2 linked regions of the Homo sapiens genome follow. The protein of the gene in region 2 purifies or fractionates together with the protein of the main gene of each other region. This does not show direct contact. Each region holds a gene or a part of one and is shown on either strand. Other genes may lie near its edges.

Region 1 (4,091 bases), on a different chromosome or scaffold from region 2:
ACATACTAATCTTCAACTAAATAAAACAGTATCACCTGCACATCACTGGTACTACTCAGGATCTAGCAGAGACTACAGAAATCATTTAGATTTCCTGCTATATTTGCCACAGAGGAATCTGAGGCCTAGAGAATCTACTGTAGGGGTGGCTAAATAGTGACATCTTTAAAAATAAATTTAGTAGTCATTGAAAATATTATATTTAAGATACCTAATTTTTGCAGAATCATTTCCTACATTGTGGCTATTCTATCAAACCAAATAAGAAAAAAAAAATTCTTATGAAGGTAAAATATTGAATAAATCAGTTATTAATATCCATTTCTCAAAATACATTGAAGTGTCCACAAGGTGTCAGGTATAGTGCAGAGTTGTGCATGGGGTCTTTAATCACTGGAATTATTGTGTGAACATCCACTTACCTGTTTTTTTTCCTCCCAAATATATCAATCAAACCACGAAACACCACACACAAAACAAAGCTACTTCTCCAACTGATCCACACTTGGCAGTATTTATTGAGGATTTCAATACACCAGGCATCATTATCATGTTATACATATTTACAGAAAGTGTATGGAAATGGAGTAAGAAAAAATTTCACTGTTACTAAACAGACCTATTAGGGTCATTTTGTAAATAATAATAATTATAATAAGACTCTCGTAAGTTTCCCTGTCCTTGAATGCTGTAAAGAAACAAAACAAAAACATGAGACAGAGACCACTGACTTAACAAATGGATGACTTTATTAAGAGAGAAGGACAAGACTGATGTTTACCTTGGTCAAACCATCCAGGAAAACAAAGCACACAGACTTATAGAATACTTTGGTTTAAAAATTATTCATAATATCAATATTAAACCTGATGTTTAAAGAACCTAATGAGAAATATAGTGTAAAAAACAAACCATGAAAACACAAGTTTGCATAGATGAATTAATGTAGATGTACAATTGGCATTTAAAAAAGGAGGTTTGCGTTTTGGGAGTGCCTTAACGATGTTGAACACCTCAACCTCCCAAGACACATGAAAGTCACCAGCACCACAATTCTCATTTTCCTCAATGAGGTCATGAGCAGGAACAACTTGTGCTGTACGGAGGTGAACTGAAAGAGACTGCTTCCATTGGCCTAGTCCAGATGAGTGTATATATTCCCATCAGAACCCACCACTGGTCATCTTTAAGGCATCCACAAAATGTCCCTCACAAATTCACTTAATCTCTAGATAGGCATGTGGTCTGAGGCAGCCTCTTTGTTTTCTGTCCTCACACAGGCAACTGCATTCCATCAAGGTTCTGTTCAATTCCACGAACTAGCTATTTCAAAGCTGCCTATTCTTCTGGGGCTTGGTTATAAATCCATGTGGATTTGGAATAACAATCCATTTGTTTTATAAATATATCCACATTCCAAATATCAAAGGGGCACTTCCTAAGGAATCTGAAAGTGCCCAGGCAATGCGTAGTCTCTCTCTCAAGAGATCACGTTTCTAAATTATGAGACAAATGATAGCATCACCTCAGGTTTCCTGGGCAACTTGATTTATATGAGCAAACTCTTGTACTTTTTAATTCAGCACCTTTTCAAAATATGTGCTGGGATGGATTCTTCTTAGGGAAAGCCCCATATAGAATTCTCATTTTGGAGCATCATTTTTATATGCTATCTCCCCAGTGTATCTTCTCAATATTTATAACACTTTATGAAATAAATATTGGGTTGCCTGTAAGAAGAGAAAAATATAGCTCTTTCTGAGAAAGAGCATTTGGCTTGCAGTTTACAGCAAGAGCTGAAATTAGAGACCATAGGGATTTCCAAGACCAATTTGACCAGAAATACAAAAATTCTGATGTCAAAAACCCTCTCACAAAATTTAACAGGTAGAAATTATTTTAGCAGTATAGCCTGAAATCCAGTGCAACAAAAATGTATCCCAATTCTATGATATGTCATAGTATGTTCTCTTAGCTGTCTTCCCTTACTTGTTCTTACTCCTTACTTGATCTTTTGGGAAGAAAATGTCGCCCAAACCCATCTTTCAATTTTTCTATTCTTTATATGAACCTCAGCAATGAATAACAGGGCATTAAGTTACACAATTAATTATGCCCTTATCTGAAATGCTGAAACCTGCACAGTGCTGGTTCTCTATGCTATGAAGTTAACTCAAAAAGAGAAAAAACATTTTCTTCTAGTTTGCTGAGAATGTACAAATGCATCTTAAATCTATTAAAATGTTACTAGGCAGTGTTCACATATTTATATATATAAGGGAAAGAGAATGGTTTTTAGGGCCATATATTTCTACAACTCAACATGATTACACGATTGTGTTAGCCTGTGGCATCAAACAGAATCACCACTCTGGTGTCTTTCTTATCAAAGCAAAAGTTTTCCTGCTTTTCTCTTATAAGTAATAAAACAGAAACACTCTTCACATTAGCAAACCTCCCATTTCAAGTAAATGTCTCTGTTTTGTTCGGTTTTCTCCTTTTTTTTCCCTGTTAATGGTTAAGCATTTCAATACACAAGGGTGTTGGTGAAATTCTTACAAATAATCTGAATGTCTTCACTGCATAACAGAACCTTTGGAAATATCTTCTATGTAGTCACCATAGAAGACAGTCAACTCTCAGTTACTCAAGAAGTGGTACCTGGTATGAAGGATTTGGCCAAGAAATTCTCTCCTTCTACCAGTCTTTTTGGTCATGCCACTGCTTATTCAGAGGTGGACAGACAACATGAAATAAAATTATGTATTTATTGTGTTACAGATCAGCCACAAGTCAGTGGCAGAAAAGGTCCAAAGCTTCTGATGACAAGGATACTTGGGGATCATCTGTGAATGTTATATCTCAATGGAAAGCTGACTGTCAGTCACATAAAGGAAGTAACGTACACTGACATCAGTCAGAGTCAAACTAATTTAAGGCAGTACTGCTCCTCACAAACAGTGCTGGCATAAAGTGCAGGTCTCATTGTAAAAGTGACTCTGTAGTAGTAAGATTTTCTCAGTTTACTCTTTCTTTCTTGACTTCTCTACAATTAAATTTCAGCATTTCTAATGACAGTTGTTAAATACCAGGAGCAACAATATCCTGACTCTTTAATATTCTTACCTCTCGCCATGGATAAAAGAGATTCTTCCACCAATAATTTGAAAGACATTGTGCCCCATGCAGCATTAACAGGACAGTCTCCAGTTTGCTTCTACCTGCCCATATTACTTATCATGGGCTAAAAAGAAAAAAAGTATTCTATCAACAGTAAGATAAGCAGATATGGCTTTAAGACTCACAGGCACCACCAGAAATGAGAAAATTGGACCATTTTATATAGTCACTTCTCTATGAGCAGTAAGTAATAGACAAAGTAATTTAAAAATCTTTTTTCCTTTTTGCTGAAGCATGAGGTTTTGATTTTGTTATGATCGTTTCAACAGAATATGGCACTCTATGTACAATGAAGTCTACCTTAGCACTCCTTACACAAATACCGTCTTCTCAAAAGGGAAAAAGCCTTTGGCTGCAAGTTCTATTCTATTATCAGTCCTTCAGAAAGCTGTTTACACAGAGATCTCACTCCTTTATTAGGGTGAAGATTTTACAGCCAATCATCATAGTTATCTTTCAAGAAAATAATCACTGAATAATGAATCATCTTGGTATTCCCCAAAGCGATGCTTATACAAAGGCAAGACATAAAAAATCTAGGACTTAAAATGTTAACCACTTGTGGAGTAAACTGAATGCACCATATTATAGTGGGTATTTCCAATTTGGCACAACACAAATTTTAGACAAGTTTTGACAGAAACTATTAAAGAAAATTAATAATCAGTTAAAAGCTAATTATTTTTATACTGAAAAGTTCTAACTTTGAGAGAAAGTGATGAGCAACAGTCAGCAAAGAATTTACTCATCATCTAGCTCAGCTTCAGGACACATTAGAGAAGAAAAGCGGGGTTAATGAATCAGGTCCAGAATTTTCTAGAGTGAGTTCAGTAAACACAAAGCCCAAGGTCACACATTTTGGAATATGTTGACCTAGATCCAAGTGGTCATTGCCATTCTAAAAAGGTTTT
Region 2 (3,825 bases):
GCATCTTTAAACCACCCATGGCGCATGTGTAAACATTCAACAATGAGGGTGGGAAGAAGCAGGACATTTTTTCACTGTACACCCTTGATTTCTTCACTGTAGGCTTTTTATTGCCATTGTGCTTGTAAGTGACACATTCCAGAAAAGGGTTTGGAACTCTTTTTAAGTCCCTCCACTACCCCTGGTCTAGTCATCAATCAGAATCCACAGGTCTGGAAATGGCGAAGTAGGGGTGGGGAAGCAAATTGTTCTCAAACATGCCTTGTTTGTAGAGAAAAGAGCTCTATCTCTGGGTCAGCAAATCCCCCTTGAATTCCTAAGACCTAGCAACCTCTTCCCTTCCCCACCTTGCAGAAGTCTGACCTGCCTTTCAGCGGAGTATCATCACTTACTCAGGAAACGGTGTCACACTGGGAGGAGGCAGTTCCCTTATCAGCTTGGAATATTTTTGTTGTGGTTTACATCTTTCTCAATGTGACTGTGTTGCAAAGGACAGGTAGCGATGAATGGATCCACAGCTACCAAGTTTTTGAACTATAGAGGATTCTCAGGGCCCTTCTGGCACAGGGAATTGAGGTGAGAGCTGGTTGTACATAAGAGACAGCCATTAAGATACTGGGTCTCTCTGGAATTCTTTTGCAGGGACTTATAACATCAGACTATCGTCTGTGCCCACCCTCCAAGCTGCTCTGGACCAAGTCCTGTGGTGAGGCTGAAACTCAAGGGCTCCTGTGTTCAGGCAGGACCTGGGCTAGAAAGATGCTCTGCAAGAGAGCAGAGCTGGCACCCCCACTTCCCAATTCCTTTATGTCCTAACTATCCTTTCTTGAAGTGACTCCTCTCATTCCTTTTGCCTTCCTCAGTGGGGATATGAACAAACCTATTTCTGGATGTCAATATGGCTGCTGTTCTGCAACGTGCCTCTGCTCCCAAAAATATTACCTATCTTTTTTGCAACCATGAAAGCAACCATGCATCCCACAGTTAAGAGAACTGAGGGTTGTCTGGATGCCACAGTCTGTTTAGAGAGTCAGAGGAATGGACTTACATCCTCGGTCAAATCCTCCTGAGTTCCTTGCCCTCTCTGCCACAGTTCAGCCAATCTAGTCAAAAGCTACTTGCTACCCACCTTCCTCCAGGATAGTGTGAAAATTATCTTTGCAACATACTTTTACTGCCTTAGAAAACATCTGCTATGTAAATGCAAAGCATCATCATTAAGATTCATTTAGACATGCTGTATGACTTTGGGCAAGCCACTTATGTTTGCTGGGTCTCAATTTAAAATTCTGTAAAATGGGAAGATGTCATGTATAAAAACAGACAGCTACTGTGAGGTTTAACTAATTAGTATCTCCAAAACACTTTGAGAGCCTTAGATGAAAGACATTTGGAAGATCATTATCACAGTGAACATTATTATTGACTGTTTATTGTGCCCTGCCACACATGAGGCATGCTACAAAATGTAGAAGGAGTTACAGCCCTTGCAGGAGAGTGTAATAGGTATTATTATTGAACTTGATTCTATGATGAGCTCAGGCCAGGATAATACTAAGTATAAAGTACTCCACTCAGAGAGCATAAATAACCTGTTGTCACAGGGCACCATTTTGTAAAACACCTCTTTCAAAGGACTTGCCGATAACCTGGCACCCTGAAAAAGTTCGTTTAACTTTCTGTCCATGAGCTTTTGAAGCCCAAAGTCTGTTCTGCTCACCTAGACTCATCTAAAAAACAAGCTCATCAAGCTCTTTTTGTTGGCTCAAAGAGGCCTGATGCTTCCTGTGCCAACCAGTGTTCTAGGGTGGAACCAATAGTCACACCTCATGGTGCCAGCCCATAGAGAGAAAAAAATTGCCTATTGTGCCTACATGTCTAAAACCCTCCCTAGATGATTGTGTAAAAAGAAAACTTGAGAAACAGCTGTAGGTTTCTGCAGTGTGCATTTATTTCAAACCAACAGGCAAGATCACCAGACTCCTCCAGGAAGAGGTCCTGGTGGTGCAAATTCCACTGGTTCTTCTTATTCCTTCCCTAATACAGTTAAAGCAAAGGAACTTGGCAAGCCTTCAAAAGGATTGTAGGTTCCTGAATAGCTGATCTCTCTTCTTCCTCATTCTGCTACACTTTAGTAATATTTCTGATTTAGGATAGGTGGTAAAGCAGAGAAGTTATGAATCTGTGGACTTGGGTTTGAGAAATACCCAAATTCAAATCCTGACTCTGCCCCTCAACAGTTCTGCACTTTGGGTGAGTCACTTAAACCTCAGGTCCTCCAATTCCCCATCTGTAAATTGGAGATAATGGTAGTACCTACCTCAGAGGGTTGTTGTGAGAAATAAGTGAGATGATTCATGTCACTTAGCTCTTAGCACAGAGACTGGCTCATATTAAGTGCTCAGTAAATGTTAGCTGTGGTTGTTGTTGAAGTGACTCAATACTTTCTACTCTAAATTACACACACCCTTTCAGCCCCTTATTAAGCAAGTGCCATCCAGAGACGGTCCTTGGTACCCTGATTTTTGCATTGTTTTGTTTGCCTCCACATGATCCGTGGCCATGATTCAGATGTGTGATTCTTCCCAGCATGTGCTGGCTTCGCAGCTCACTTCCAGAACCCTTAAGGCACTATGATCCATTCTAGGAGAAAACTCCCTAACTAACTTCACTTTCCCCAAACAGCACCTTCAAAGGAAAACCATACACAGGGCAAGAACCTGGTCTACTTCCTCCGCATCATCAATTCTTTATTAACATTTTTATCTTTCGTTTTTTCCTGCTTCTCACTCTATTCCCCAACACAAATATTGCCATGGGTTCTGTAGGGATGGACTTTCTCCCTACCTTGCTAGCATCATGCCAGTCACACACGTTTCTGTCTTACTTGCCCCTTATCAGCAAGAACACACCTGCCACCTCCAGCACACAGACCAGGTGGCTTTGTCCTAGAAACTTTTCAGCTGGTGTTGCAAGCAACTGATGGGGAAAAAAAATGAGGTCAGAAAACATATCAGGGAATGAGGCTGGGTAGAAACCAGAAGGTGGACTAGCCCCTTTCCTGAGTCTCAGAGGTTGTGTCCTGTAATAGAGCTGTGATACAGACAGTGGGGTTTTTGCTAAATTTGCAAGGGGATTAAAATCATCCCAGGCCCCTGAAAACAGCAGATAGGTGCCATCTGGGACAGCAAGGACCATATGTAGTAGGTGGAGGAAGACATAAAGGTAGGGGCTAAGGTTGAGAAGTCAAGAGACCCAGATGGTTCTCCAGCTTCACACACATTTACAAACATTTTTAATAACCACATGGCCCCACACTGGCACTGCCTTCAATCTCTCTCAGTGTACCTCTTTTCTAGTTAGTCTCCTCTCTTTTATTGCTTACTGTAGCATTTAAGGATTTATGGTGAAGTGGGCTGTATTTGTGCCAGGATTCAATTGTTTGTTAGCTGTGTGGCCTTAGGCAAGTCACTTAACCTCTCTGATCCTCAGTTTCTAGACTTATATAATAGGAATAATAAAGGCATACTTATATCATACAGCTATTGTGAGATTAAAATGATTAAAATGAGATTAAAATGATATACATATATATAATATATATAAAGAGCTTAGCACAAGTGCCTGGCATATAACAGAAGCTAATAAATGTTAGCAACAGTAAATAACAAAAGAGTAACAATGGAAGAGAAAGTCAGCTGGCACTAGAGTTCTTTGCACACACACAGAAACATGCAGGGATCTCCATTAAAAAAAAAAAAGGAACCAAAGAGTACTGCAAAAGGAAAGGGAGTTCTCAAAAAGACAAAACTGTAGTGATGAGAA

The links.
Region 1: the proteins of SH3RF2 (region 2) and CCDC50 purify together in Homo sapiens (affinity purification with mass spectrometry, with the first as the bait; one study listed by BioGRID). This does not show direct contact.

Annotation. Positions count from the first base shown.
Region 1 is NC_000003.12:191,395,069-191,399,159, reverse strand, and holds the end of CCDC50 (coiled-coil domain-containing protein 50 long isoform), read right to left. Parts: 3' UTR 501-4,091; downstream 1-500.
Region 2 is NC_000005.10:145,939,482-145,943,306, forward strand, and holds part of SH3RF2 (E3 ubiquitin-protein ligase SH3RF2), read left to right. Parts: intron 1-3,825. UniProt on the Homo sapiens protein: Has E3 ubiquitin-protein ligase activity. Acts as an anti-apoptotic regulator of the JNK pathway by ubiquitinating and promoting the degradation of SH3RF1, a scaffold protein that is required for pro-apoptotic JNK activation.